2 separate regions of the Homo sapiens genome follow, and region 2 is linked to region 1. The links come from fine-mapping of genetic effects on gene expression. Tissue or cell type: whole blood. Region 1 holds a variant in brackets; the other region holds the start of a gene. All regions are shown on one strand. Distances are between the middles of the regions.

Evidence for each region.
Region 2: it holds the start of EFR3A, and the variant in region 1 is fine-mapped to the expression of EFR3A in whole blood (TOPMed, PIP above 0.99).

Annotation. Positions count from the first base shown.
Region 1 is chr8:131,806,137-131,823,056 of GRCh38, forward strand. No RefSeq gene overlaps it. Among named protein-coding and RNA genes, the nearest start is that of EFR3A, 89 kb to the right of the region's middle. RefSeq lists enhancers at 5,235-5,755, 10,148-10,277, 10,408-10,557, 13,933-14,434. The variant G/A (reference allele first, on the strand shown) is at 8,396.
Region 2 is chr8:131,892,005-131,908,398 of GRCh38, forward strand. EFR3A (EFR3 homolog A) reads left to right here and starts at 12,089. Exons shown (of 23, transcript NM_015137.6): 1 at 12,089-12,318. The coding sequence starts at 12,309. RefSeq lists a silencer at 11,986-12,465 and an enhancer at 13,036-13,085.

The sequences.
Region 1 (16,920 bases):
TGTGTGTTAAACAACTTTATGTTAGTGGTGAGGCTTCCAGTCAACAGTAGGCTTGTAGAAGTTAAGTTTGGGGACAGTAAAAATTTATATACAAATTTTCGACTGTGGGGAGGGTCAGCACTCCTAACTCCTGCATTGTTCTAGGGTCAATTGTAATGACAGATACTCCAAAGGATATAGCAGTGAAATATATCCTTTATAGAAGTAAAGTTCCTGCCCTTAAGAGCTCATAGTCTAGAGTGATGGGGAGGGACAGAAAATTAACAAGCATTTACAATACAGGATAAATTTGAAAGCACAGAGTAGGAGCTTCCAGACCATTCTAGAATAAGGGATATGACAAATAAATATATGGAATGACAAACAGTGAATAAATGTAGGGCAAGAAAGCAAAGCAGGGCAAAAGGCATGGGGAGTTTCATGTTGGAGAGGTTGGTTATGTCACATAAGATGGTCAGAAATAGTCTCTCATAAGGAAATGAGAATGCAATACTGCAATTAGTTGAGGAAAAGGAATCCAAGGCAGAAAGGACAGCAAGTGCAAAGTATGAAGCCAGCCCAGGTGAGGGTGTCTGAGGGAAACCCTTGTATTTTTATGCTTTTTCTCTTGCATTCACTTCCCCAGGGGAGGACCCCAGAAGCTCCTACCAAATGTACCCACTGCATCTGAAAGCAGCTTCTGCCTTCAGTATCTGAGGTCTTCCTACATGCCAGCTGAACTAAAAATCAGTTACCTGCAGGTCTTCTTTGCCTATTCTCATTTGACCTAGGAGCCTGGGCAGCAAGTTTCCCGCCTCTTCCCTTCTGGTCTTCGTGATCTTCATCACTGAAAATCCCTTAAGGTAATGATCTTCTAAGGACAGTGATCCCAAGGCAATGGGAGCCAATGGTGGAGACACATTATCAAATCTCCATTTTATAAAAATAAAACATATCAATTTGTCTGCAGTATGAACCACACATTGGAGAGAGCAAGATAGCTCTCTTCTAACTGGAAAACCAGTTAGAAGGCTGTTGCATCAGTCCAGTGAGCGATGATGGTGACCTAAATCTAAGTAACAGCAGTAAGGATAAAAGGTACTAGGATGGTAGAACTGATGGGGCTTGGCAACTGATTAAATGTGGGCCCACGTGGAAACGGGAGGGCTCCAGGGTGACTTCTGGCTGTTACTTTGGCAACCAGAGTTTGGGAGTGCCATGCACTGAGATAAAGAGAAGCAGAAGCAGGGTAGAGAAAGATGATGTTCTTAACCACATCCCGGACTATCTTAGGATTTGTTAAAGAGCAATCAACAAGGATATCACAGAATCCATATGTATGTAGTTGAACAGATGAAACTTACAAGTGTAAATAATTAGGGGATATTTTGAAGCAGGACATAATTAGTTGCAAAAATATATGCTTGGGACTACCAACCGGTGCAAAGGATGCAGGAAGGCTTGAGGTCATGGGGCAGTCATAAGGAAAGCACATGAGACCATGATTTGAGTTTTGAAGATTTAAATGAGTAGAGAGAAATAAGTGATGAGGAAATGGTGACCAGGCTCGTTACCTAAACAAAGCCACAGCTGCAAGAGTGAGGGAGCTGTGTTTGAGAAGCAGTGACTCAAAGAAATATATAAAAATTCTCCATAGCTATATCTGAAGTATAGCTATAGTCCAGGATGCACTGAAATTAATGAAGAGATCATAATACTGGTGAACAAATATTCTGGGAATATAAGTTGTACAAGGTGGGCACTGGTAGATCTCCTGTGGGGTTTAGTTGAAGGGCATGAGTTGTGAAGTTAGATATGATTCTGTTCACATCCTGGAATCATTGCTAATGAACTTTATGGTTTGGGCAAGTGAACTCATCTTTGCAAGTCTTAAGTCTCCTGTGTGAAAATGAGAACAGTAATACTTTGCTATACTCTAACGAATAAATGAGATGGTGTGGAGTACACACTCAACATATATTCATTCCTTTCTGCCACTCATTTTGAGTCCCGGCTCATCATGAGATATCTGAACAGGGTCCCCTGATATGCTGTATGGAATTGATCTCAGCATCAGTTGACACCAAAGAAGTTTAAGCTCATGGTCACATAAAGAAACCACTATAAACTAATTTGCTTATAGGGCGAGTTGTAACCGTAAGCCTGAACGTACTGAATATGCTCAATAAATTGCAAATAACTTACAGACATCAATGCCATGTGAATGTGGTATCAACTGGCTGCTGGTCTGCCCTCATGGGTTGATCAACCTATCTCCTTAGCCAGTAGGAGCAGGGCACAGCTGGGTCCATGTTCCCATTCATTTCTGCTGCTGCCCTGGCCCTCTTTCCCTGCTTCCATGTCCGGGCATCAGTGCTGAATTTAGCTCCCTCAGATTTAGTCCTGAAAGTTACAAGCTTTGTGCAATTGGAAGACTAAATGCTATTCTGTTGCTTTTGCTCATAAACTGCAATTTGAGTGAAATAGCTTGTTTTTCATTAATATATATATTTCTTTTTCTCGTTTTCTAAAAATTGCTTAATATATTTAATTATTCCCTTTATTTCCATACCTACTCATATTCCTCAGACCACCTTCCCAATGGGCAACTATTCTAAAATTCTTAAAGCACAGGCCGGGCACGGTGGCTCACATCTGTACTCCCAGCACTTTGGGAGGTGGAGGCAGGTGAATCACCCCAAGTTGGGAGTTCAAGACCAGCCTGGCCAACATGGTGAAACCCTGTCTTTACTACAAACACAAAAAGTAGCCAGGCATGGTGGCGCACGCCTGTAGTCCCAGCCAGTCGGGAGGCTCAGGCACAAGAATTGCTTGAGCCCAGGAAGTAGAGGCTACAATGAGCCAGGATCATGCCACTGCACTCTGGCCAGGGTGACAGAGTGAGACTTCATCTGAAAAATGAAATAAAATTCTTAAAACACATCATTTTGCATATATGTGTTTCATGAATGGATTAAATGATAATATACTTAGTCAATTTTTTTGTTGTTGTTTTTCTTCCTCCACCTCCTTGACTTCCTTTCCTGGGCTGTGAACATCTCCAGGATGGGTACCTGCCTGCTTAGTCTCTCCAGAGCCTAAGTCTCTCCAGAGTTTAGAACAGTCTCCATATAGTGATTCTCAAAAAAAACAACAAATGCATATGGGTCCAGGTTGAACCAAATTCTAAATGTTCCAGAGAACTAAAGGTTACACACATGAAATGTTTATAATGCAATTCAAAATATTTCATTATGCTTGCTGACACAATTTGTGGATGCAGTAGCTGAGCTCCCTACAAACTGTTAAGAACCAATCAGGTCTCTGAGAGAGAATTTGAGGAGTAAAACAGAGGGCTTCAGTTCAGTGCACTGATTGTGATTCTTATTACAAATGGTACCACTTAATTCTCTTGTTCCAGACTTTGCTCCACATTGAGATAACCATGGTTTTACAGAAAGAATCCTGGAGTCCCAAGACCCATGATTAAATCCCCCTTATAAGCTCTTATCATTTCAGGTTATTTATTTATTTATTTTACTTTTTAAGGTGGCCAGACTTTAAACACAGGGAATAAGCAGCATTTGATATATATAAATATAAGAATTTGCATGGGACACAACTGGGACTTTGAAGTAAAACATTATCAGGGATGGAAACAGCTCTAGAGATCAACTACTTTTTTACACTCTCTCTCGAGGGCCACACTGTGAAGTAGTATGCAGGGAGGGGAAGATGTTTATGGACCTGATATTCTGCCAGTGAAAACATACAAGCTGTTAAATATTGAAAAACTCTCAAACTAGTTGATAAATAAGTTCCATCCCACCTCAGGTTCTTAGCCCCAACTGCTCTATCTTTCTGCTGGGGTCTTCATTGACTTTCAGATTTTCCTACATAACAGCTGGAGTAATGTCAGGTGGCGCAGGTACTGAGGTCCTGCTCAGGTACCAGTCCTCCCATTTAGGAGCTCTGTTCTAGTTCATCATACCCTTGCTAAGCTGGCTGTTGGCTACTTTAGACAGGCTTGTGTGTGTGTATGCATATGTGACTATGTCTGTGTGTATCTCCGTGCCTCTCTTTCTCTGCTTCTTTCTGCACAAGGATTCCATTCTCCTCTCTCTGACATAAGGCTTCACGTGCCTATCCCTGGTTTCTCTTCCCTTATCACCTAAGCCTGCACAGAACTAACATGACCTCACTGCCCCTTCTTCATATCCTCACCCATACGTCTCAGCTTCTGTTTCTAGCTTCCAGTTTCAAATTCCTGGTGGCAGGAACGACATTGACCCAGTTAACTTTTCTATTCAAAGTCACATCACTGAGTCCTAGCTACCTTGATCTGACCTCCAAGAAAGCAGGGTGGGGGAAGACGATGGTTCAGCTTCCCTTGGAAGGGTTTGAGTATGGAATTGATCTCCACGGAACAAATAGTTTCTGTAGAAAGTAATTCTGAACTCGTTTGTAAAAATTCTTTTGAAAGAGCCTGGAACATAGTGGAGATTCAATAAATCCCTTCCAAAGCTGACTCTGTGAGAAGCTAGAAGTCAGTTCAAGATCAGTTCCATCACCTATCACCTGGGATGTTAAACTTGGTGAGCTCTCTGAGCTTCTGTATTTCACAATGCAAAGTGAAGATGAGTAGCATTTCTACTTTATGAGACTATTGTGAGATTGAAATAAGAAGTTCCCTGTGTGTGATAGTAAAGATTAAGAGCTTTGGGGTCTATGAAACTTCTTCTACTCATTAGCCAGAGGATTGGAGGCAAATCATTTAACACTGTATATCAAACAATTCCCGATAATTGGAGTTGAGGTTTTTGGAAAATTGAAGCAACTCACATAGTCTAAGGCAATCTCCTGTCCAGGTTGGAAAGGGAACTTTGGCTGGTGAAGCCTGTGAAACTTTCTTTCTAGGGCAATACCACGGGACATTTGTTCCACTCCAGTTTCACATTTCTACAAGGAAGCATCCGACTGGCTCAGCTTTGATTACTGTATGCAATAGACTGAATGTTTATGTCCCCACCCCAAATTCATCTGCTGAAATCGAATCCCCATTGTAATGGTATTTGGACACAGGGCCTTTGGGAGGTGACTGGGTCATGACGGTAGAGTCCTCATCAACAGCATTAGTGCCCTGATAAAAGAGTTCCCAGAGAATGCCTTTGCTCCTTCTACCATGTGAGGACACAGAAAAAAAAAAAAAAAAAAAAAAAAAAAAAACAGTTGCCTATAAATCAGGAATCAGGCCCTCACCAGATAACCCAAATCTGCCTGCACCTTGATCTTGGACTTCCAGCCTTCAAGACTGCAAGGAACAAATCTCTGTTGTTTGTAAGCCACCCAGTCTATAGTATTCTGTTCTAGCACTCCAAATGGATTAAGGCACTCTCTTTCCCTAAACGGGTCAGCCTTGGCTCAAGGACAGTTGGGTTGGGATGAGAAGAGTAAAAGGAACCTCCCCGCATGACAACGAGGGCAATCACTATGGGTGAAGAATGAATGACAGAAAGCACTTAGCTCACTGTCAGACACATAATAGGGCCTCAGTGCAGCGTTGCTGTGTGATAGCGTTTTGCAAAGTGTGAGATCCTTATTCTCCTACATGACTATCAGGTTGCTGACATTGTACTACATTCCAGAGGGCAGAGAGAAGTATAAGAAATGGCCCTGCCTTCTAGAATCTTACAGTCTAGATGAGAAAAATAACAATGCATACTTATAGGCTTGATTTTATAATACAGATTATAAGCACAAAAGGACAAAGCGGAGCACCTTAACAGAGGGAGGGGTGAGAGCAAATGAAAAAAAAAATTCCAAGAGACAAATAGAAGTGTTGTAAGAAAAATAATTTGGAAAAAATTGATTTTGAGGCTAGACTAGAAAGTAATTTTCTATTCCATTTCCTGGGCAGTCTCATACCCATAACAAAAACAGACTTATTTATAACACCATTGATTGTCTTGTATATAGAGTTAAGAATATAAAATAGGAGGGGGGCACATTCCATTTTGACAGATGCAGAAATAATAAGAAAAACGCAGTCATCATTCCTCCACTGCTCCCTCTGGATCTTTTCTGTTTTCTCTGACTCCCTGCCTTGCCAAGCAATTTAGTTTTATCCCTACGAATGAAGCAATTTACATGATTTGAGTTTGGCTTTGTTTGTGTATTACTGAGAAATGTCCTATACCTCCACCATCAATTACCTTGAACAATATCGTAAGGATTTATTAAAAAATAGATTTAAGCAAAACATATCTTTCACACACAGAGAGAATCAGACTATAGCATTAGAAGATAAATTAACATTTCCACTAATCTAATCCAGGCTGTCTGTGAAACATTTCTTAATAAGATAGACGAAAGGGCTGCATTCTGCTTATGCGCCAGCCTGTGGATTTTCACTGGGGCTCTGCCTCGCACCTCCACTTTATGTTCTTTCTCACACAGGCATTTCAATATTGCCGCATTCAGATTTCCTGCAGTGAGAGGCGATTTCATAATGAACGGTCCTGCCGCGCAGCAAGGCCAAGGATAGTTTGGACATGACACCTTCAAAGGAAATCTCTGTTCTAGAGCTTAGAGACTGGAGGGTGTGTGTGTGTGTGTGTGTGTGTGTGTGTGTGTGTGTGTGTGAGATGCTGAGGCTTCCTTCAAAGAGCTAGCTGGTCCAGGAAGGAAGAATAATTCTGATCTTATCTCTTCCTTATTCCACAAGAAAGTAAAAATACCCAACATTTTTCATGCTGTGTTCTGGGATTTTTATACCTATTAATACTCATTAAAGCTTCAAAATAACTGAGTAAGGCCCATAGGATTATTATCACCATTTTATAGATGAGGAAACTAAGGCACAGAGAGGTTAAGAAAGCTGGCCAGATGGACGAACTGGTGGTACACTCTGGAGGCAGGTTTTGAACAGAGGTAATTTGACCCTAGAGCTTATACTCCTTTTCACTGTTTACTAGATTTATGAGTTACATGTGCATGGTTGCTACATGGCTATATTGCATAATGGTGAGGTTTGGTCTTCTAGTGTACCCACCATCTGAATAGTGAGCATTGTACCCAAGCTCAGTATACAGAAATAATAATATTACAGTATACAGAAATATTATAATGTACAGAAATAATATTCTATATATTCTTTTTTCCCAACCTTCCCCCTTTTGGAGTTCCCAGTGACTACTATTTCCCTCTGTAGGCCCACGTGTACACATTGCTCAGCTCTCACTTATAAGTGGAAACATGTAGCATTTGATTTTCTGTTTCTGAGTTATTTCTCTTGGGATAATGGCCTCCGGTTCCACCCATGATGCTGCAAAATGATTTTATTCTTTTTTATGGCTGTATAGTATTCCACAGAGTTTATGCTCTTAATCCTTAATCATACTACCAGAAGACATTTTGAGGACCCTCCTACACATACACCAGCACCCAGAATATGATCCTGAAAAAAAAAACAATTTAAAATGTAGTCACTAATTGAAATAGTCAATTTCAGATCCTTGGCTCCAGACAAAATGGCTACACAGATCAACTTGATCTGGAAACATAACTCTGGTCTTTTATTTCCCCCTCTGCCCCACTTACTGTCAATTATTTTCCATTCCCATTCTCACCAATGAATACTACTATGCTGTACAGATAGGAGAGCTGCCATCCCCCTGCACTCTGCAGAAGTTACCCCATTTAGGGTATAATGGCCTGTTGTGGGTGCCATGGTTATTGTTATTATTATATAGTTATGAAGTGCTCATTATATTCTAGTACTCATATTCTAAGCACTTCATATGCATTATATTATTTAAACCACATCCCAACTCCATATGGGTTACTGCTGCTATCCCCATATTTTCAGAGTTTGAGAATGAAATGAGATTTTGCATTTAAAGCCCATTGCTTATTTCACTTAGCATAATGTCCTCTAGGTTCACCCATGTTGTCACAAGTCATAAGATTTCCTTCTTTTTGAAGGCTGTATAGTGTTTCATTGTGTTTTTATATCACATTTTCTTTATCAGTTGATCACTTGATGGACACTTATGTTGCTTCCCTATCTTGCCTGTTGTGAATAATGCTACAGTGTACATGGGACTATGGCTACCTCAATTATTATTTGTCAGTTAAAAATAACATATTTTTAAGCTCATTGATCAGTAACTAGTTCATAGAAAGCACCCAAAAATGTCAGCTGTTGTCATTACCATCATCTTTATCTGTTATTATTATTGTACTTTTTACTATTGCTTTAACACAGCTCATAGGGAATGTAGCACAGATTAGAACTTGGATCTGTGCGCCTCCAAAGCCTATCCCTTCGTCATCCCCATAAAGCCTCTGTGTAGAAATCGGCAACCAAAATGGTGAAAGAGCTATGAGCCAGCATATCTGGAGTGGTTAACAGACA[G/A]GATGTGTTCAGTGGGGTGTAGCTAAGACCCAGGGAAGTGGAAATAATATTCTGTATATTTTTTGCCACTGAAGGGCCTATGTGGGACCAACAGTCAAGACTTCAGAAAGGCAATGTTTAACTCTACTTGTGGAGCATTGTCACAATCTTTCCTTACTAACAATGAAATAGGATTTTCTGCATGGTAGCTGGTATTTTTATCCCTAGGAATACTAACTTAGAAGATATACAACTATCCGTCAGAGACCATGAAAAGAATTTCTTGAGGTAGTGTCATGAGTTAACTTCAACCACCCCCTACAAATGAAATTCTATGATTCATACAGAAGTCTGGCAGCCTAGGAAATTTCCCTTCCTTGTCCCAACGCAGACACAAGTTGCAAACCTTCTCCTTTGTTTACCTTCTATTCCATCCCTTTCAAATTTCAGGACCTCAAAACTTATCTGATAAAATAATGGTCTTAATGTATCTCATTTTCAGTGAATCAATATCTTACTCCTTCTAGTGAATTTGTTTTAAAACAACCAAAAATATTAATTACATAAATAAAATATGTATATTAAGGAAAATTAGAAAATATTTTTAAAAGACAATTATGAAACAAAATTACAAAATCTAAGAAAAAGAAAGAAGATAACTTATCTATAATCTCTATCAATATGTTGATACATATTTTCCCAACCCCTTTTTAACTTTTTGCAATTTGAAAGATGAATTCTGAAAACACAGATATGGCTCTAAATATAGAAATGTTCTGTAGAGTGGAAATTATACATATTTTCATTGCAGTAGACCAAATATTGAGCACTTAACTATATGCTAAACATTGTGTAAGTTACTAACAATACACAATCAAATAAGCCAGGATTCCTTCTTTCAAGACTCTCAAAGTCTAGGGCAGGAAACAGCACATAAATAAACATTAATAAAAGTATGCGTATAATAAGAGGTTCTGTAACAATAAGCATATATAGGTTTATTCGTGCTCCTAAAAATAATAATGGCCATAATCACAGTAACTAACAGTGATCAAAATTTTACATTTACTTTAGCTAGTTTTCACCTTAAGACAACCTTGGGAGTTGACACGCATTTTTATCTTAATTTCCATTTTAAGGTAAACAGAGAAATATAATGGAAAATCTGTGGGCTTCAGAACCAAGGAGATTTACATTCAACTCTAGATTCTGGTTCTGACTGGCCACATAGCCCTAAACTGTCACTTAATATATTCAACTACCTCTCACGGTTGCTTTCAGGTTTAGAATTGACATCTGTAATGTGCCTGACACGTGGCAGGTAGTCCCGAAAATGCAGCTTTTATTACTGAACAAAGCTCAGAATAAGTCAGTGATTTGTCCAAGTTCACACAAGTAGTGAACAGAGTAGGAACTCTAAAACAAAGTGTCTGATTCTAATCCTGTCTTCCTCCGCAGCACCACTTATAGCACTTAGGCAATCATCTATTGTAGGCAATGGGACGGTTCGAAAATAGAGCAGGTGCTACATAAATATCTCCACGTATCTATATATATACATTTTACATATTTTTCTCAGTTCTCTTTTCTTCTTAAGTGACCAGAAAAAAGAAAAGGTCAAATAAAAGTTGGTTTTTTTTTCCATTGAAAATCTGCTGCCCAAATTCCCAGTTCACAGTCCCCAACATCAATAGTACAGGCTGCAATTAAAAGAGGAAATGAGAGGGACTCATTATGCCTATGGAGAAATCCATCCTATAACTGCAAAACCTGCAAAGTAACTCTGTTCATAGGATATGGGCCATTTACCTTCTAGGCTATGACTCCACTGTCCTGTGGACTGGGCTGAAAAGCCCACCCGAGACCTCTCAAGATACCTGTTTAGTTTCCATTTTAATTTAATGGGTAATGAGTTCCCTTTATGGAAGATACTCACTTTCCTTAGCTCTCTGTAATAATGAAACAGGGCTGCTAAAGAAAACACAGAGCGGTGGTGAAGAGAAAACCCCAGTCAACCAGGCCACTGCCTGCTGACCATGAGTCAGCAGGTAGCACTGTTATGCAACATGAATGCTGAAATGAGCCGCACGATCTGAGAACAACCACAGAAGCTGGAGTTGCAAGAAACCTTAGAGCATTCTTTTTCAAAACAGATTTTTTAACTCATTCCACAATCAGAAGTACATTTTACAATTACAAGCTAACACACATGTATAAATACATAAACAAAAAACTTTCATAAAACAATTGTTATCCTTACCACAGGGGATGCAGTCCAATATTGCCTATTCTGATCCATTCTCTTCTTTACTACTTGACAGTAAGTTAATTTCTCAACATGCTATTAATCACCACATGTGGTTTGGTTGAAAAAAAAAAAGCTGCTTTGAAGAATATCTCATTCAATCCTCTATGCAATGTCCATGCAAGTTCTGATTCATGCCAGCATGGGGTACTCTTTAAGAATGTCAAAATCATTCAAGACATATGAGTTTACAGAAAATGATGAAAGAATAATAATCTTCACCTACCATTGTGAACACTTCCTAGGAACTAGGCTCCATGCTGGGGCTCCAAATCTATATACTATTTTATCGTTACAGCAAGCCATTTAGATGGTTCTGTTATCACCCCTGTTTTACAGATGAGGAAATTGAGGCCTCCACTGAAGGCTAGCTATTTCTTACAAAGGGTCACTTGGAGCTCAGTTATTTGCAGTTAATCCATTAATCATCATCTAGTCCATTTAATCATCTAATCCATTTGGTACTCTGTCATCGGCAGGAGAGATGATACTAGCGACTAAAGCTTTTGTTACATTTGCTTTTCCTCTTGGATGTCACTTGACCCTGGCACTTGAGCCCTTTTTGATCTTGCCCTACTTTCTGTAATAGGAAGTTCACTGGTGTGTACAGCCACAGTTAGCCCTGGAATGACAACATGGAACTCAACAAATCATCCCTGGAATTCTATCTGTATGCATTTCTTCTCTCTATCTTCAGCCTGTTCACTTTCATTATGAGGGCAAAAGGCTACAACAGTTCCAGGCATCACAGTCTCACTTGACTGCAGCCAAAGCGGAGAGAAAAGGGAGGAAAAGTGCTTTCTCCTATTTTTATTTTTGGTCGTTGTTGTTGGGTTTTGTTTTTGTTTTTGTTTTTTGTTTTAAGTTTTTGAGACAGAGTCTTGCTGTATCGCCCAGGCTGAAGTGCAGTGGTGCAATCTCGGCTCACTGCAACCTCCGCCTCCCGGGTTCAAGTGATTCTCCCTCCTCAACCTCCCGAGTAGCTGGGATTATAGGCACCTGCCATCAGGGAGGCTAATTTTTGTAGAGATGGGGTTTCACCATGTTGGCCAGGCTAGTCTTCAACTCCTGACCTCAGGTGATCCACCTGCCTCAGCCTCCCAAAGTGCTGGGATTACAGGCATGAGCCACCTTACCTGACTCTCCTATTTTTGGATTGGAAAACTTTTTTTTAAAGACCTCAAAATTCTTCCATTGGCCATATCCCAATCACTAGCTCACCTCAGACCAATCACTGATACATCTGCTGCCTTCCCTAAGGTGGGCATTTTGCCAGGTGTACAAAATCATGATTTTGTTATTGAGAAAGGGGGTTGTGACTGTTGGGTAGGCAACTAACGCTACGTGCTCCATTGGCCTTTTAGAATCTGCATCATGTTCACCTTCCCAACCATATCTCTCCCCACTTTCTCCCAACATTGAACTCCCACGCAAACTTTACTGACCTTTTTTTCTGTAGTTCTTTCAGTGTACAATGACTTACTAATCTTAGGACTTTTACTCTTGTCCTTTCCTTTGCCTGAAACATTCCTTACCCGACTTCCATCTTCTTCTACTTGTTAATTCCTATGCTTGCTTAAGGTCTTGAATTAAATGTACTCTCCTTCAGTAAACCATGTCTGAGTAAGGTCTGGGTTAGGTCCCTCTCATACCTACTCTCTACTTGGCTGAAATGAAATTTAGAGGCCATGTCTGTCATTACCTTTCTTGTACCCTCAGTCCCTATTAAGGTACCTTCAATGGTCTTTTGCTAAATATTTATTGAGTAAATGAGTAAAAGCTGCAGTTATTCAGTTGAAAGGGCATTGTATTTTAATATCATCTATTTTGAGTACACATCAGAGACATTATCAACTTTTTATAAACCACATAACAAAATTGCAGACTGTGTTCATCCCAATTTTACTCAATAGGAAATGAGACTCAAAGGGATCATGTTCAAGGCCACACAGCTTGTGGATGACAGAGACAAGATTCAAAACCTTGTCTGATTCTAGAGCCCAGGGATTTTCTGCTCCACCATGCTGCTGTCCAGTAAGAGACACATCAACTCAAAGTCCTCCACCAGCCCTAGTTTTTGATATGACCTAGACAAACATTTTCTGTAAAGGGACAGATAGTGAATATTTTAGGCTTTGAAGGACATATAGTTTCTGTTGCAACTAATCTACTCTGTTGTACTTTGAAAGCAGCCATGGATAATATGTAAACAAATGAGCTTTGTTGTATTCCAATAAAACTTTATTTGCAAAAACAAGTGACAAGCCAAATTTGGCTCATAGGCCATAGTTTGCAAACCCTCTAACCTAGAGCAATTCAATTCCCCAATGTTAGCTTTGTATTTTTCATCCATAAACTGGGTAGTTTGGATTTGATGCCTACTAAGGTGACTTTGTACTCTGAAACTCAAGTATTAATTACTGTTCTGAAGTCCCCCAAAATCCTGTTATGTTTATTGTATCAGTGATAAGAAAGGTACAATGTAAGTGTTATTCAATAAAAACATTAACATAAATGTGTGTTCAGAAAAAAAACTATTAAAAAGAAACACACAATGCATACAGTGAAAAATGTAGCCAATATAAACTAAAGCACAAAAAAGGAAAAACCTTAGCCACGTATTATCATACGAGAGTTTTTTGCTTTATCATTTCTACTATATAAAATAATCTAACACTTCTTTAAAACTAGGCTTTTAATTTTAGCTTGTGCTATCACTTAAAATGTAGGTGCCCTCATTCCCCTTCAAACATTTTAAATATTGATTCTTGCTTTTAGAAGGTTATAATTAACACATATGGAAATATAGACTTACCCATTATAAACCTTTAGAGATCCATAAATAAATATTTACTCTTATAGCATACAGTTGTTGTAAGCATTGAATAAGATTGTGTACCTGGCAAAAACCTGACCAAATGGAGGTGTTTCATCCATTTTAATTGTTGTTGTGGTTATCAGTTTTACTGACTTCTGTTTAATGTTGATGTCAGAAGCAATGTTTTATACATTAGATCTGTGATCCTCAACTGGGGGCAATTTTGACCCCCAGGAGATATTCAGTGATGTCAAAGATATTTTTGGTTGAGACGACTAGGTGCTGCTTCTAGCACCCAGTAAGTAGAGACCAGAGATGCTGCCAAACACCCTTCAATTCACAGACTAGCTCCTCACAGCAAAGAGTTATCCAGCCTAAATGTCAATAGTGTTAAGGTAGAGACACACTGCATCAGACCCAATAACCCCTATTCCTCGCATGGTTCCAAACAGAACACAAAGTATTGTCAATAAATGTTTGTGATTGAATAAATGAATAAGTGGATGAACAAAAGTAGTTACTGTTAGGCCTCTGAGCCCAAGCTAAGCCATCATATCTCCTGTGACCTGCACATACACATCCAGATGGCCAGTTCCTGCCTTAACTGATGACATTCCACCACAAAAGAAATGAAAATGGCCTGTTCCTGCCTTAACTTATGACATTATCTTGTGAAATTCCTTCTCCTGGCTCATCCTGGCTCAAAAGCTCCCCTGCTGAGCACCTTGTGACCCAACACCTGCCCACCAGAGAACAACTCCCTTTGACTGTAATTTTCCTTTACACTATGGGCAAGCTTCCGACCTCCATTCCCCCTTCTTCTCCCTTAGCTTGTGTTCTTAAAAACATAAAACCTCTTCAACTCACACCTGACCTAAAACCTAAATGCCTTATTTTCTTCTACAATGCCGCTTGACCCCAATACAAACTCGACAGTAGTTCCAAATAGCCAGAAAATGGCATTTTCAATTTTTCCATCCTACAAGATCTAAATAATTCTTGTCGTAAAATGGGCAAGTGGTCTGAGGTGCCTGACATCCAGGCATTCTTTTACACATTGGTCCCTCCCTAGTCTCTGTTCCCAATGCAACTAGTCCCAAATCTTCCATCTTTCCCTCCCGCCTGTCCCCTCAGTCCCAACCCCAAGCGTCGCTGAGTCTTTCTAATCTTCCTTTTCTACAGACCCATCTGACCTCTCCCCTCCTTGCCAGGCTGAGCTAGGTCCCGATTCTTCCTCAGCCTCTGCTCCTCCACCCTATAGTCCTTTTATCACCTCCCCTCCTCACACTTGGTCTGGCTTACAGTTTTGTTCCCTGACTAGCCCTCCCCCACCTGCCCAGCAATTTCCTCTTAAAAAGGTGGCTGGAGCTAAAGGCATAGTCAAGGTTAATGCTCCTTTTTCTTTATCCTAAATCAGATAGCGTTTAGGCTCTTTTTCATCAAATACAAAAATCCAGCCCAGTTCATGGCTCGTTTGGCAGCAACACTGAGATGCTTTACAGCCCTAGACCCTGAAAGGTCAGAAGGCCGTCTTATTCTCAATATGCATTTTATTTTATTACCCAATCTGCTCCCGACATGAAATAAAGCTCCAAAAATTAAATTCTGGCCCTCAAACCCCACAACAGGACTTAATGAACCTTGCCTTCAAGGTGTACAATAATAGAGTAGAGGCAGCCAAGTAGCAATGTATTTCTGAGTTGCAATTCTTTGCCTCCATTGAGACAAACCCCAGCCACGTCTCCAGCACACAAGAACTCCAAAAGCCTGAACCACAGCTGCCAGGGGTTCCTCCAGAACCTCCTCCCCCAGGAGCTTGCTACAAGTGCCAGAAATCTGGCCACTGGGCCAAGGAATGCCCACAGCCTGGGATTCCTCCTAAGCTGTATCCCAACTGCGTTGGACCCCACTGAAAATCGGACTGTCCAACTCACCTGGCAGCCACTCCCAGAGCCCCTAGAACTCTGGCCCCAGGCTCTGACTGACTCCTTCCCAGACCTTCTTGGCTTAGCAGCTGAAGACTGACACTGCCTGATCACCTCGAAAGCCTACAGGACCATCACAGATGATCTGGGTAACTCTCACAGTGGAAGGTAAGTCTGTCCTCTTCTTAATCAATACGGAGGCTACCCACTCCACATTACCTTCCTTTCAAGGGCCTGTTTCCATTGCCTCTATAACTGTTGTACGTATTGACAGCCAGGCTTCTAAACCTCTTAAAACTCTCCAACTCTGGTGCCAACTTAGACAACACTCTTTTAAGCACTCCTTTTTAATTATCACTCCTTTTTAATTATCAGCCCAGTTCCCTTATTAGGCGGAGACACTTTAACTAAATTATCTGCTTCCCTGACTATTCCTGGACTACAGCCACATCTCATTGCCACCCTTCTTCCCAATCCAAAGCCTCCTTTGCATCCTCCTCTTGTATCCCCCCACCTTAACCCACAAGTATCGGATACCTCTACTCCCTTCTTGGTGACAATGATGCACCCCTTACCATCTCATTAAAACCTAATCACCCTTACCCCGCTCAATGCCAATATCCCATCCCACAGCATGCTTTAAAAGGATTAAAGCCTGTTATCACTTGCCTCCTAGAGCATGGGCTTCTAAAACCTATAAACTCTCCTTCGAATTCCCCCATTTTACCTGTCCAAAAACCGGACAAGTCTTACAGATTAGTTTAGGATCTGCACCTTATCAACCAAATTGTTTTGCCTATCCACACCGTGGTGCCAAACCCATATACTCTCCTATCCTCGATACCTCCCTCCACAACCCTTTATTCTGTTCTAGATCTCAAACATGTTTTCTTTACTATTCCTTTACACCCGTCATCCCAGCCTCTCTTCGCTTTCACTTGGACTGACCCTGACACCCATCAGGCCCAGCAAATTACCTGGGCTGTACTGCCACAAAGCTTCACAGACAGCCCCTATTACTTCAGTCAAGCCCAAATTTCTTCCTCATCTGTTACCTATCTTGGCATAATTCTCATAAAAACACACGTGCTCTCCCTGCCGATCATGTCCAGCAGATCTCTCAAACCCCAACACCTTCTACAAAACAACAACTCCTTTCCTTCCTAGGCATAGTTAGATACTTTCACCTTTAGATACCTGGTTTTGCCATCCTAACAAAACCATTATATAAACTCACAAAAGGAAACCTAGCTGACCCCATGGATCCTAAATCCTTTCCCCACTCCTCTTTCCATTCCTTGAAGACAGCTTTAGAGACTGCCCCATCCTAGCTCTCCCTGACTCATCCCAACTCTTTTCATTACCCACAGCCGAAGTGCAGGGCTGTGCAGTCAGAATTCTTATACAAGAACCAGGACTGCATCCTGTAGCCTTTTTATCCAAACAACTTGACCTTACTGTTTTGCCTAGCCCTCAAGTCTGCGTGCGGGGGCCGCCA
Region 2 (16,394 bases), 86 kb after region 1:
GTTACAGTAAATAGTTCTCAGCATCTACTGACACTTTTTCCTCATTGTCTTGCATATACACAAATATATTGACTAATTTTCTTCTTTCTTCTCTGTCCTGCTATGTTTTATAAGGTGGATGAGTGATCGTTAACTTCAGCATTTGCTTCCACGGAAGGCAGAATATTGAGATGGGATTATGACTGGACTGGAATGAGAATAAAGAACCTTCAGACACCCTAGACTTGAAGTTGAATTCAGCAACTTAAATAGCATTGTGTTGGCTTTTTCATGGGAGGAGATGAGAATATTGTCAAGTTTATGAGGCATGTTTGCATTATATTAGGTGATATGTTTGTTGACCAGTTTATTTTGTGGTTTTCTTTTGTTGACAGTGAAAATGTGGAGAAAACAAAGTGGATATGGTGATGTTGAGCAGTCAAATGGGTGTGCATTTGTCATGATTTTCTGCTGTCCAGTGTGTAAAGCCTCCTTTGTATAGAAAATCTACCCTGGTAAAGCAGACCTCCTTTCCTGTTAGAATCTTAAAATACCATCTGTGTGCTTTCCCACCATTCTTACAGCTAGGTACTTGACCTCAACATTACCTACCAGGTTTAACCAAGCCAAACTTTGAATTAGAAGGTAGTGGCGCAAAAGAAAAAAAGGGCAGAGCCTCTCTGAATCTCTGTTTGTGGTGGGAGGCAGCAGCAATAGCAGCAGGCACCCTCAGTAGCCAGAGGCAATAGGAGCAATGTCCAGTGTCAGTGAACAGGGCTCGCGACAATCGTGTATCTATGTTACAAGCAGCAGCCCGGTGATGCTGCACAGGCCAGTCTCGTGTAACTTGTCTATAGCCACTGAGCTGAAACCTCAGGCTTTCCTGACTACTCCATGAGTTACCCAGTTATCATGTCCTGAATTCCTTTTTGGCTTAAATCAGTCAGACTTGCTTTCTATTGATTGAAATTTAGAACTCTGACTAACACATACCATGTATTTAATGAAGATTAATTGAACTTATATCATGTGCCCGGCACTAGGGGCTATCAGATGCTACGGAAACGATATTGAACAAATGAAGATGAGGTTGCTGCCTACATGGAACTTATAGGCTAGAGATGGAGATATTAATAGAATAATAATGAAAATACGTTTGATATTAATTCTGTTGTCTTTTCCACATTTACAGTTCCTTGAAGTTCATGACATTACTTTCTCCTGGCATTAAAGCAAGAGTATTTAAATCAGAAGGAAAGAGGCAAAATGTTATTCATGACTTAGGGGAGAGGTGAATTAGACATAATTAGTATTTTTTAAAATACTTTTCTGCATTTTACAGTTTCTCTATAATTGGCATGCATGTCTTCTTAAAACATTTCCATTAGACAGATTGGACTTTACTCTCCAGCTGGAATCATTGAAACCTGCAAAGATTTTTAGTTAATCCTATCAAAAACTGCTTTTCACTAGCCTGTGTCATTATAATAGCAGTTGGAAACTGTAGTTGGTCTATGTGAGATTATACTAAATTTGTTAACGTAATATGTCTTAATATGATTTAGAAGAAATGCTTTATTTTCTTGTTAGCACTGTTATAAAACAAGTAAAGCAGGCCAGACTATATTAAGAACAATTTTATTGAATATTGGAATAAATGACCATGGAGAGAAACTACTCTTAAAAGATTTGCAATTAAATTAGACAATTTTAGAACTGACTTATTAAATGTCTAAGCTCTGTCACCTGCTTAGTTATGTAAAATTGTGTTACTTTACCTCCATGGTGGGAGAACAGTCATATCAACAGAAATCAATGACATTTTTCTCTCTTCTCTTTCCCCACAGCTCATTCTTCATGCTGTGCTTGTTTATCTGAGTTGTCTAATGATCCCTTATGTTCAGAATTCTGCATCCTACCAAGCCTGGCTGTAGTGGTGCCATTTAAAAGTGTGCAAACTTCACTGTGGTTTTGGACAATTAGTTCAAAACTAAGTTTGAGAGCAAAGTGGGAAATTCCACTGGCCATATGTTATGAGTGCATAGGGTTTCCTTGGATCAACTACTCCCTTTGTTGGGAAACTACATTCCTTTCCACTTTGCTGCTAAACTTCTATTTCTATAGCCTTCTTTCCTTCCTACCTTGTTTCTGTTTCATTTATTTATTATGAGTTACTCAGTTAAAAAAGCTCACTCTGTGGTTACCAGTAATCTATCTTTCTTTCTTTCTTCCTTTCTTTTCTTTTTTTTTTTTTTTTTTTTTTTTGAGATGGAGACTCACTCTATTGCCCAGGCTGGAGTGCAGTGGCGCAGTCTCCACTCACTGAAACCTCCGCCTCCCAGGTTCAAGCGATTCTCATGCCTCAGCCTCCTGAGTAGCTGAAATTACAAGCACACACCACCAAGCCCAGCTAATTTTTGTATTATTAGTAGAGACACGGTTTCGCCATATTGGCTAGGCTGTTCTCAAACTCCTGGACCTCAAGTGATCTGCCTGCCTCGGCCTCCCAAAGTGCAGGAATTACAGGCATGAGTCACCACACCTGGCCTCTCAATACCAATTGGAAGTATTTAGCCATAGAACTCTGGGTGATGAATGATTGCTTGCTGCATCATTCAGTGACAACAACTCGCCTAGCTTTGAAAATTATCTATTATTATGCTCTATTACCTGTAATCTAAACAGAGCTGTGATTTAGAGAGAGCCATTTTTTACTGACTTTAGGCTCATTGCCTGCACACACAATAACTTTTTGTTTAAATGCTGCATTATAGTGTGGTATTTTTGAACCAATTTAAGGAACAATTAGATTTGATTGAATTCAAATTTACATTAAAATTCAATCACGTGTGATGACATTAGTGAAAATAACTGTTGGGACAATTGCCTGGATCTAGGTATGGTTGAGTCAGACAGTAACAGCTACAGTGCTAGGGAGCAGAAATTTATACCTTTCCTTCCATAGCTGGCAAGTTTCAGCTGACATCAAATGTCAGTTGTATTCTTATTCCAGAAACATTTAAATGAGAAAAAAAAATCATCTTAGAATTGGGCAAATCTGGTGTTTTGATTTTGCAACTTAACTCCTTGAGCTCTGAGCATCTCTTGTGCTCACATTAGATACCTCCACAGTAGGATACTGGCTCTCGGATGCTTCCATCACTTCCCTGTTACCTCAGTGCATGTTTCTGGATCTAGCAAGGCAGTTCGATTCATGCACTTGTCAAAAACATTGAGAATTTATTTTGCTGTGTTAGGCCTAATTCTTGCTCTTTTAAAACAAACACTTTGTTGAAAATCTAGGATACAAAGAGACTTATAGACCACTCAAAGTGGTCTATAACATAACAATGCCCCTGATTCTCTAATAAAAACAATAAGATACAACAACCAGAATTATCCACACTAGTTTCAGCAATCTGCTTGTGAGATGTATTTTTCCATATTTCCAAGCAGGTCTACCACCTCTCTCCCTTATTTCATTAGATATAAATAGGATTTGGTTGAACTGGGTTTCTGCTTTAAAGGTATAAAATGTTCTGGATTTACTTCTAACTACTTCCTGCTCCCACCCCCCAACTACCCCTGCCAGTTCAAGATTCAAGGTAAATATAATTAGTAGCAATAATAGCTAATCATAACTCTATTGCCTTATTTGAGGCAAATTTAATAACTATCCTCCACCCACTCATCATTTACTAGCTACATTAAAGACCAAGATGGAACAATGTATGGACAAAGATTTCTCATAGGAATGCACAAGTATTGAATGTACAAGTATTGCAATATTTTAAAGTTTATTTTCTGAGAAAGATGAAGGTTGATACAATTAGAACTTGCTTGAAACAACAGTTATAGTTTGAAACCAATAGTCAACAGTCCCAATTTCTTATTTCTATCTTTTTCCCAAATGAGAGAAAAACAAACAATTACATGGTGATTGTAATTCAGCTTCAAGCCTTTAAAAGGAGACTCAATACAAAACCTACTGGCATTTTTTTAAGGAATTAGAAACAGATGGAAAGCATGATTCTTCCTCTGGAGGGTTTGACATTCTTTCTGCAAAACAGATTGGAAAAAAGACAATAATTGCCTCTAAATCCACCCGTTGTAGGTATGCATCTCCTATTGGGCCTTCTAATTTGCTCTTCAGATGACTTTGCATACTGTCTGTGGTGAAGATCTTGGGTTTGCGGGGGGCAGACAGGCCTGATTTCAAATTCCTGGGTCATGACTGACTTGGGTGACTTTGGGGAAACTATTTAATCTCTCCATGCTTCAGTTTCCTCATACTAAAACAACAGGTATACTTAAGCGTATCCATTCAGTTTTGTGAGGATTATGTCAGAAAATGTACTTAAGGTACTTAGCATGGTATTTGGCACGTACTAAAAGCTTGATAAATTATACCACCCATGATTACTTGTATACGCTATTGATTATTAGCAACAGTTATAGTGAAAACTAGTAATAGTGATTAGGGGATACATAACTAACCACTCCCAAACTTAGTGGCTTAAAGTAACAGCTATTTCTTCAGCTCGTGCTCCTGTGTGTTGACAATTTGGGCTGGTCTCAGCTGGGTGGTGCTTATGTGGCTTTTGGCTAGGCTGACTTTTGAATTCTTGTTTAGCTGGGTGACCAGCAGGGGCTGACTGATATATGGTGGCCTCATCTGGGATGATTAGGAGGATTGGCGCCTCTCTCTTCAAATAGAAAGTTTGGGCTTCTTCACCCTTTTTAAGTCTCTGCTCACATAATGTTTGTCACTGCCTCTTTGGTCAAAGCAAGTTACAAGGACAATGCAGACTCAGAGATGAGGAAAAAATTATCTCTTCGGGGGAGGTATCCCCAAATCAACTGCAAGAGTGTAGATATAGCCAGAGGTAAAAAAAATCTAAGCGATTTTTCTAATCTACCACAAAGATCTCCTTTCAATACTTCAACTGACCTCTCTGTGATGCTTGCCCTTTATGTTTTTCCCCTTCCTCCCTCCCTCTCTTCCTCCAATTCCCACACTTCCTCAAATATTTATTAAATAAAATATTTCATGTGCAGGAGATACAGCAATAAATAAGATTTGATACCAATTGTCATAAAAGTCTTGTAAAAAACTCACTGCCTAGCATGAGACCATATTTAGAAGATTTTTTTCTCTCCTTTCAGCAGCTCCCCTACACTCTGTGTTAAATGCTAAAGCTAGCTAACATTTTAGTAAATAACAATGAGAGTTAATGCTTTCCTCTAATTGTTTAAAATGATAGTGTTTCTAAGGAAGGGTTTCCAGCTGTTTTGTCTGATTTAATCAAGAACTCTTAACCTGATTATCTCAAGATTTTGCTCCACCCATTTGCAATTCTCTTTATAAAGCAGAGATGACTGAGACATTTGGCTCATGACATGATCGGGAGTGTCTGCCTTGCACAGTGTCCTAGTTGGCACCGAAAAGTTTGGGCAATGACCTTCTGGATTAGAGGCTGTTAAAGGGTAAGCTGGCTGGGTGTGGTGGCTCATGCCTGTAATCCTAGTACTTTGGGAGGCCGAGGCGGGCAGATCACCTGAGGTCAGGAGTTCGAAACCAGACTGACCAACATGCTGAAACCCGGTCTCTACTAAAAATACAAGATTAGCTGGGTGTGGTGGCACATGCCTGTAATCCCAGCTAATTGGGAGGCTGAGGCAGGATAATTGCTTAGACCCGGGAGAGGTTGCAGTGAGCCCAGATCATGCCATTGTACTCCAGCCTGGGCAACAAGAGCGAAACTCCATCTCAAAAAAAAAAAAAGAAGAAGAAGAAAATGTAAACTGAGGCATAATAAAATTTTAAAGAGTTTATTTGCACAAATAGCGATGCATGAATCTTCGGAGGGAACACCAGGGGAAGGTTTCTATAGGATGGACATAGAAGTAAAGCAAATAAAATATTTGATTGATTATAATTATACAGTCCCCATACTTGGTTTATTCTGTTAGAAAGTCCCTAGTTATATAAATTTGTTGATAACTTCTGATTGGTTGAGCTTAAGTTCTGTTTTTTCTTGAATTTCAGCATTTACAAGAAATAGCTCAAGTTAAGTTTTACTTACATTTGCAAATCAAGCAAGGCTTAGTTCACTCACAAGGCCTAACTGGTTTTATCTGCTCAGGGGTTCTTTAGACCTGGTCTGCATCTTAATTTACTTTAGCAAGACTTATCTTTTTTGTATGTTTTCATAAGTGTTTCCAATTCCTTTGTGGGGAAAGCAGAATCCAAACTCAGGTTTTCTGTGTCTAAAGTCTGTGTTTTTTATGCCTCATAAGAACTGGAAAGCCTTAAGTTATGATTAATCAATGGTAAAATGAAATGGAATGAAATGAAAAAAAGGGCATATTATTGATATGTATTGTGAGAAAAAAACTAAGCAATGAGAGCATCAGATTGCATCATTATGACTTTTTTGGAATAAGCTTTTAGGAGGAGTGAATCTATAGCCTTATTAATTATTTCCTATAAACTGTAAATTTGCTGGCAATTACCTTTGAAGCACTAAAATGCATGCTAATTAAAAGTGAATTCTCTCAGTGCAGGATTTAGAAATTGGAACAAATACTACACTAAACTGGAAACAGAGCTATTTTGGACAATTTGAGCTAAAAGCCAATGCTCTAATAGGATATCAACAACGACCTTTCTAATATTATTTTGACCTCTTATTTTCTGAGAAGGAATAAAAGAAGGGACAAAGAACTTCTATTTTTAATGGCATGTATTCTGAAAATGTGCCAGAAAACATAAAAAAGAAAGTACTCTTCTATTTAAGTGCTAGTGAATGTCTTTCTTGATTTGAACTCAACATTGGCTTTTGAAGAGTTTAAACAAAATAAACAGGTACTATTAGTAATGATTAATATATAGGTAATGAGGTAACAAATGTCCCAGTCCTGACCAGCCTATATGTATAAATAAGGACAAGTTAATGCCCACATTACCTTGGTTCTTTATCCCACCTGCACATGCAGGCCTCAGCAGCCCTCCTTAGGATCCACCACAGTTACTGGGAGTCCCCAATATCTGCTATGTACCGCAAGAAGCACTAGGGCCCTTCAGAGACAGGATGGAGGTATGCAAATTAGCTCTGGAACTTGAAAGAAACACCTTAAAGCCAACTTAGAAGTCTTGGAAGGTCTTTTTGTACTTAGTGATATTTGAAAATAATTTGTTTCTTTTTTAAAAAAATCAGTTGCAAAGACTGCAGCAATCACATTCCTTTTTCATTGTACACTGTCGTCTTTCTGTTCAAAGCCCTTTTTTTGCTAATTTTATTTCCCTATTCTCACTCCCTTTCCCTTCACCTCCTTATATATCATTGTTGAGATCCATGTTTTCTACGTGCATGTTTTTTAAAAAATGACATAAATAGTACTGTGCTATAAATATTGATGCTTCTTAATTCTGCATTTTTTTTTTTTTCGAGACGGAGTTTTACTCTTGTTGCCCAGGCTGGAGTGCAGTGGCACGGTCTTGGCTCACTGCAACTTCTGCCTCCTGGGTTCAAGCGATTCTCCTGCCTCAGCCTCCCAAGTAGCCGGGATTACAGGTATCCACCACCATGTCTGGCTAATTTTTGTTATTTTAGTAGAGACGGAGTTTCACCATGTTGGCCAGGCTGGTTTCGAACTCCTGAGCTCCAGTGATCCACCCGCCTTGGCTTCCCAAAGTGCTGGGATTACAGGCGTGAGCCACTGAGCCTGGCCAATTCTGCATTTTTAAGATCAAGCCATGTTGCTGATGTGCATCCACAGTACGTATGAATCCACCATGTTCTGCAAGTGACAAACGCCTAGGTGGCCTCCAACTCCGCATTGCCATGAACAACACGTCAATTAACCTTTTTATCCATCTTCCTTGTGGACCCTGGTGAGAAATTTTCCAGGATATATTCCCAGAAGGATGATCTCCAGGTCATAGGGCATACTTAATTACACCAAACACTCACAAGGACTTTGGAAGTTAGCTAGAGCAGGGGACAGAAAAGCCCATTCCAGCAGGGCAAAGAGCATGGGCAAAAGAATGGAAGAGTGCTACAGCAGAGTGGTTTCTGAGAACTGTGCACTCATTAGGACCAGGGGAAGCAAAGCGTAAGTTGCAATGTAGGGGAACTGAAGAGCTCTCAATGTCAGGCCTTGAAAGGCTTCCTGTGCTAAGCTAAGGGCTTTGAACTGTAGACTGAACACTCTACTGAGCCATAGACAAGTGTTAGCAGGTGAGAGGTCATAGTCCATTTCCATTCCTATAAAGGAATACCTGAGGCTGGGTAATTTATAAAGAAAAGAACTTTATTTGGCCCACAGTTCTGCAGACTGTATAAGAAGCATGGTGCCAGTGTCTGCTTCTGGTGAGGGTTTCAGGGAGTTTCTACTCATGGTGGAAGGGGAAGGGAGGAGGCATCACATGGCATGAGAGAGGGAAAGGAGGTGCCAGACAATTTTTAGCAATCAGATACTGCAGGAACCAACAGAGAACTTATTCATTACCTTAAGGAAGGCACCAAATTGTTCATAAGGGATCCACCCCCATCACCCAAACACCTTCCACCTAGGCCCCACCTCCAATGTGGGGGATCAAATTTCAATATGAGATTTGGAGGGAACAAATATCCAAACCATATCAGAGGTATCATTAGATTTGCATGTTAGAAAGGGCACTCTGCCTGCCCTGCACCCTGACAAAAGCATCACCTCAAATACCAAGCTCAAACACTAAAGTGGCTCAAATGCCAAGGCAGTGTGTCTTCTCTTAAAGGGATCTGGTGACTCGTCTCCATGTCTACCACACATAGTGTCCAGGACAAGAGCTGGGCAGTGTGGGCACCAAGAGAGATGGCTAAATCCTCGTTCCTGTCAGCCCAGACTGGGCTCCAAGAGAGGAGCACTGACACAGAGGGGATAGAAAGGGGAAGGGTGTTTGCAAAAGGGGATACACCAAGAGGGGTAAGACCAAGTACCAAAGATGACGGCAGACTCTCTGCTCTCAGAAGTAGGGGGTAGGGGGCCGGGCGTGGTGGCTCACACCTGTCATCCCAGCACTTTGAGAGGCCGAGACAGGCAGATCACTTGAGGCTGGGAGTTTGAGACCAGCCTGGCCAACATGACAAAACCCCGTCTCTACTAAAATTACAAAAATTAGCCAGGCGTGGTGGCATGCACCTGTAGTTCCAGTTACTTGGGAGGCTGAGTTAGGAGAATTGTTTGAACCCAGGAGGTGGAGGCTGCAGTGAGGTGAGATTGCACCACTGCACTCCAGCCTAGGCGACAGAGTGAAACTCTGTCTCAAAAAAAAAAAAAAAAATCAAAAAGGAAGCGGGGGCTGGCTGTGGTGGATACACCGGCAGAACTCGGATCCAGAGGATAGGTTAGGGAAAGAGTATGGTAACATTGCTACCAATGTGCACAAACTAGGGAAAAAAAAAAAACCACGTAGGTACTGTATATATAATCAAAACATTATGACACTATTTTTCCTGACATTCAGCTGTCCTTCCTCAGAATCTTTGGCTGCTGATTTTTATTTCTGGCAACAATACAAAACCAAAAGACCAAGAGGATTAAAAACAGAAAGAAATGAAAAACAAACAAACAAAAAAACAACCAGTATGTGCAGGACAATTTCAGGGCCTTTGGGATCTGCATCTTTTTCAAGGTAATGTAAGCAGAGATGTCTGCCTTTTGGAGTCATGTCTTCCCTTGGCTCCTGGGGCACTGTATCCTGTGGATCTCGTCTCTCTGTGCCTTCACTGCCTCCACATCTTCCCTAAAAGGGCTCTCTTTGACACCCAGCTTCAGCTCCTGTCCCGGGACCAAAGATTTCCAAATCTCCCACCCTGAGGTCCCTCAGCCCACCTTCATCCTGGCTTGCCCAGCTGCCTTCAGATTCATTCACTCGGATGTCTCCCTCTGATACCACCTCAAGCTCAATATGTCAAGGAGAAACTCACACCTTTCTTCACACCCCTTCCCTAAAACAGCATTTCTTCCTGACTGGTCTACTGCTCTCCAGCACCACCACTTTCCTTGTTCCAACCTTGGAGTTACATAACTAACAGATGCCTCTCTATTGCTCCCAAGTCAGCAGCCAACAAATCCAGGGATTCTTTTCCAAAGTAAGATTCAGTTCTTTCTTTTTCCACAGCCACCACCAAGACTGAGCACCTAACACTCTCTCCTGTATTGGGGCCTTCCGATTTGGCTGCCTACCTCCACAGTTTCTCTGCCACACCATTCCCCCTGCAAGGCCCTGCTTCTGATAATTTAATGTTACTGTTATGCTTTTTGTAAAAATCACAGAACAGTTTCTTAAAAGACAAATTCCAAGGTTGAATGTAAAGTTGTTTATCAGTTTTATTTACCTGTTTTTGTTTTCATACTCTTGAATAAAATCCTTTATTTATATATTGAATTAATATACTCTGGCCCCCACCTGTGTGCCAGCCAAGGATACATAAACATGAACAGAATATGGCTTTTGCCATTTTCTGAAAAGCAAATAGGCCCATGGTAAAACACAAGCACTCATGACAGTTTATTTAGGATGCAGTGAGAAAAGTGCTGTAGCAGAGAGGAATCAAGATAATGCCAAAGTCTTAGGGAGAAAACTGGAAGCATGAAAGATTTTATAGGTGATAAAATATGCAACAGGGCATTAAAACATGAATAAGCACTAGGTAGTTTGGTCTTTACTGTTAGCAAGGGACAGTCTCTCTTTTTTTTTTTTTTTTTTTGAGATGGAGTCTTGCTCTGTAGCCCAGGCTAGAGTCCAGTGGCCCGATCTCGGCTCACTGCAAACTCCGTCTCCTGGGTTCAAGCGATTCTCCTTCCTCAGCTTCCCAAGTAGCTGAGTGAGAATATAGGCATGTGCCACCACCCCCGCCTAATTTTTGCATTTTCAGTACAGACAGGGTTTCGCCATGTTGGCCAGGCTGATCTCGAACTCCTGACCTCAGGTGATCTGCCCACCGCCCACCTCGGTCTCCCAAAGTGTTAGGATTACAGGCGTGAGCCACCGTTCCCAGCTGGACAGTCTCTTTTATAGGTACAGTACACACTCTCCTCTCCCCAGCTGCCATGACTCACTCTAAATTACCCTTCATCCTCTCCCCAGCCTCTTTTAGGACTCCCCTAGGCTTTGCTAATTCAAATTCTGCTTTCTTCCAAGTCCACCTCAAGCCAAGACTAATTTCTCCTCAGCGCTTCCTAGCTCTGATCTTCATGTTCTTCATCTTCTCCTCCCAGTACTGCACAATATCATTTCTTAATCAGAAGGTTAGCCCTACTTTTTAGGACAAAGGTTCTCAGTATTATCATTGTATTTAAATCATCTGTATATGTGTTCGTAGATTTGGCTCAGCACCTAGGAATCTGCTTTTCAACAAGTCCCCAGGGGATCCAAGCACAAAAGGATCCTGGACCACTTTGACCCACTTTGAGGAAGGCTGTGTTAAACCTCTGCGGTTGGCTTTTATATCTCCATATGGGCTGTCCGCAGCCCACGGCGCCTAGCATAGTGTAGGTGCGTTGCTCAGCTCTCTGGCTCCCGGTGTCTGCTCAGCTTGGTGACTATTAGATACCTCAATTATTAATGACACCCAGAGTCAAGAAGAGTAGCTCAGCCAAGTGCACAGAGCTGCCCTCTCCAGAGGAGACTAACTCCTGAGGGATAAGGTCGCTCTGAAAGTCACAAGAGCAAAAGGAAATTACATTTTCTGCCCTCTCAAAAAATGAGCAGCCATCACCCCAAATGACCTTAGTGCATCTCAAATAAACCATGCTTTCAGAGTATGCAAAACGCACTGCAAGTTAAACCGATTGCAAAAGAAAAAGCCCACAGGTACTCCGTGCGCTCAAAGCCATCATCCTCACAAACGTAAAGTGATGCACTCCAAATAGAGATCAAGGAAAACGAATGCCACGCAGGTCACCAGGCTTGGAAAATAGAAGGCACCCGAAGTTGTTCTACGTGGCTGTCCCCAGCCACCCATTCCACCCGCTCGACAAGGGATCCTGGGCCGAGCCCGGCCATCCGCGGGGGCGGGGCCGGGACGGCGGCGGCGCGCTGACGTAACGGGCGTGGGTCGTCCGTCGCGCCGCCCGGCGAGGAGTGGGCTGGCGGCGGTAGCTGTCGCCCGCTTGGTTGCGTGACCGCGGGGTCCGCGTCCGCTCCCTCCACCCTTCGCCCTTCGCCCTTCGCCTCGTTCCGGCCTCCGCGGCCCAGCAACGGCCGTCATGGTGCCGTCGGCGCTCCCTGCGCGGCCCCGCTGAGCCTCGGTGCGGCGGCGAGCGCGGTCGAGATCGCCATGCCTACCCGTGAGTGGCCGGCCGAGGGCCGGGGGCGTTGGGAGGCGACTGCCTGCGCGACGCGCTTGGGCCGGGTACTCCTCCCGGGCGGCTGGGGAGGCTGGGCCGCGCTGAGCAGAGCCAGGAAGTGTCTGCGAGCGGCGGAGTTAGTTTCGTTTCGGCTTAGCCTTCCGGAGATGGCGTGAGCCCGTTGCACGGATCGGGAAACTGAGGCCCGAACGTTAAGGGAACTGCGGGGACGCGCTGTTAGGAGGCGGCAGAGCTGGTGGTAACCTGACCCGTGGGATTTCAAAGTTAAAGCCCTTTTCCCACGGCCACACGGCTTCGTGGGACTTTATGGAAATATTGAAAATAACTGCGGTACCATTGTCAGTCCCTTCTCACCTCGGGCCGGACGTCGCTAGTGGACGCGCCGGCCCCGAGTCCCTTCCCGCGGCCGCCAGACAGACCCCCGACAGCCTAACTCGGCGTCCGTATCGCCGTCGGGGCGGCTGAAGTCGGAGCTTTCTGTGGAGCTTGTTAGGCAGAGGCACCTCGACTGTGGCTTTTGGACCACACTTCGGATTCACCCGGGCAGATGATTAAAAATGCCGGTTTCGGGACCCGCCCTATTCCCATGGAATTAGTCTGGAGCTTGGGCCCCGGAGTCTGCATGTCTAATAAGCGTCCCTGGGGTTACCAAGGCACCCCAAAGTTTAAAAGTCACTCGGTGTTGGAGGATTTTTAGACAGACGCGATACTACAAGTACTGCTAATGACCTATTTTAAAATGACCCAGATAATCGCAGTGTGACTTTATAGCCACTGGTCAATGTGGATATGTGCAAACTAGGGAAGCTCCTGATCTTGGGTAGAGAGGAAGCAACTTTGTCATTGATTTGAGAATTCAAGTAGGACTCCTTTGACTAAGTGTTCAATACTATAGAATCTTTACACACTTGTGAATATATTTCCTAGAATTCATAACTACTTCTAGTTGTCCTTGTTTTGTAGCCATCTGGGACGCTGAATTTCCAGGTCAGTCTCCAATGCACGTTTCGTCTAGTGGTGGGAAAAGATGAGTTATTTCTTGATATTATAAAGATTGATATTTTCCTGATATTTAAGGATATTAAATTTAAATTGATATTAAAGATATTTAAATATCTTTTTGAGATTTAAAGATTTTCCTGTGGCAAATCTTTACATAGTCCTGATGTAGAGATTACTTTTAACTCCTCATACATGTGTGGGTACTGTGGATTTTGTTTTCTTCACACACTACTGTGTGTCCTTAACTCACGTTCTTGGACTTCGCATCCAGTAAATATGTCCAGTTTAAATTTCTGTTTTATTCCTTTTGGCTGGAGGAATATCATTTACAATCATCTTCATTGTTATTGCCAGTTTAGTACTTCTAAATTCATGTTCACGTTATTCAGTGAATATCTGAGACTAGCACTATGCTAATCTTTTATTTTCTGAGAAACCAAAGGGGAGGAGGTAAGCACCTATTGAAAGTTGAGGCTTCAAGTAGAATTTATTGGTAACATGCCAGAATTATCCTGTGAAATAAAATTTTTAGTTATGTTCTAGGGTTATCTAGCTTCACAGAGTGGATATAGTAAACTCGTTTCTTTTCAAATGTTGAGTTCATTCTGCAAAATGATTTTAGGATGGGCCATGGTGGAGTTTACATAGTTAAGAATGCAGATTTCACACCCTGACTGGAAGACAAGTGAAATGTTTGTTTTATCTGTCATTGTTAATATTTGTCATGGTACATTTTTTATGACTGAATAAAAATGTGCTGTGGATTGATTGGGGGTACCAGTGTGAGGTGAATAGTGTTCATATTTGCCTTTTCTCTCCTTTGGCAGTCACAGCTGCCGAAATTGCTGGGATAGTGCAGTGGACAACAATATTTCTTTGAAATTCTGTTTGTAGAATATATATCCAACACAGAGATGGCAAAATTGTTATTCTCTGTAGGAATTTAGGAGGAAGTTCACAGCTCTTAGGAGGAAAACTGTGCTCAGATAAGCTAAGTGTTTTTGTTTGATTGGTTGTTTTAATGTTAAATGGTTGAGAGGCTTAGTGATAAGCCCAAGCCAGTTAATCCGTACGAGTTTTAATTAAAATCAAAGGGTTGGAGGTGATCACTGTGGTCTCTCAGACTCTACAATTCCGAGAGCAACCCTTGCTGTAAGTCATAGAATTATTCTACTCTTGCTATTTTGTTGCTTATTTGGAATATTGGTACTCATTGAAACTGTTGTTAATAACTAGAATCCAGTGAAGCATGCAGTAACCCCACTGGTTAAGCAATGATATATCTCATGAATATTAACAGCCACTTCACTAGAATTATTTTGGAGATCCGTAGACTCTTTGAGAAAGCAACCACCTGGAAGGATGCCTGACAGGAAACTGCCAGGACACAGAAACAATTTTGTGGTCGTGTTACAAGCCTGTAGTCTGAAACAATCCTTAGGCACAGATTTCAAGACTATGCTGCTGAATGCTGTTGCAAACCTGTAAACCTATAATTTGACACATCATTTTTCTAGAGGCCTTTATTTCATTCTCCATTCAAAGGACCATTAAGAAGCGTTTTATTTGAAAGATTTTCAAACTCTGAATCGGAGTTTGAGTTGGAACGACTGTTAAAGCTTCTTCATCATTTTATGTTGTGTATCGGGAAGCTGAGCCTTCTGAGAGTTTCCATGGAGTAAAACCATGACTTGAACACAGAACTGGCCCCTATAATCAGTAACCACAGTGAGCATAGTAACATTAATTTTTCTCTAGCACTAAATTGATAATAGTTTAGCCTTTTTTTCCCCTTGAGTTACATTAAGACAAATGTAAGCTTGGTCAAAAATTTAAATCGTTCTGTGAACTTACAAGAATGCATTTGCTTCCATCCTGTCACAGAAATCTTTGGAAAAGCTGTGGATATCACTGGTGTGCTAAGTAGATTCTTGTTTATATAGACACAAACTTAAACTTTTAGTAAACTCCTTATGTGAAAATGGCTCCTGAGTTCACAGATAACTTGCCTCAAAACAGGTCCGGTAAAATGTGCTCTTTTATTTTATATGAAAAGTTATTCTATATTTTCTAGGGAAAACCAAAACTCTCAAATATTGTTTGCTGTTAAACTATACTTTGAGTAATTATGTGTGTTGAATGCTTTCTTTTCTCATTTAGGTACTGACGTTGAGGTCTAGGCAAATTTCTTAGGCTGTAATAATAATATGGTTACTCCATGTTTGTTTTTCTTTTGATGAGGCTAATTACATTTAACTTATTTTTTAATTTATTTTTATGAAAGAAATGCAGAATGAATTATAAAAGAGGGTTGCTGATTGAAGTGTTTTCCTTTTAGAGACACATTACATGCAAACTTGACCTACACTTTCATATTACTGGATTATTAGCCTTTTGTGTTCATTCATATTCTCATTCTTTCTCTCCCCTTTTCCCCTCTTCCCCCCTTTCCTCATTGTCCCTTTGCTTCCTTCTCCCCTCCCCTCCCATCTCCCTCCTTCCTCCCTTCTTCTACCCACCACCTATGTGTCCTGCCAGAGTTGTAGCTGATGAATTTTCTTTTTTGCAGTGACCTTTGGCTTGACACTGCCCTGTTTGCTGCCCAGATCTCATCTTTCAGTCTGTCCCCACTTGTGGGGACATGGGGCTACATTAATGATTATGTAGGTGGTAGGAGATAATGCTGGAGAAAGAGAAAGCCAGAATTTGAGGTTTTTTTTTTTTTCTTTTTTTGAGAGGGAGTCTCGCTCTGTCGCCCAGGCTGGAGTGCAGTGGTGAGATCTCTGTTCACTGCAACCTCCAAATCCCGGGTTCAAGCAGTTCTCCTGTCTCAGCCTCCCTAGTAGCTGGGACTACAGGCATGTGCCACCACGCCCGGCTAATTTTTTGTATTTTTAGTAGAGATGGGATTTCACCGTGTTAGCCAGGATGGTCTCAATCTCCTGACCTCGTGATCCACCCGTCTCGGCCTCCCAAAGTGCTGGGATTACAGGTGTGAGCCACCGCTCCCGGCCATTTGAGGGGTTTTATATGCTCTCGCAATCAACAGTTAC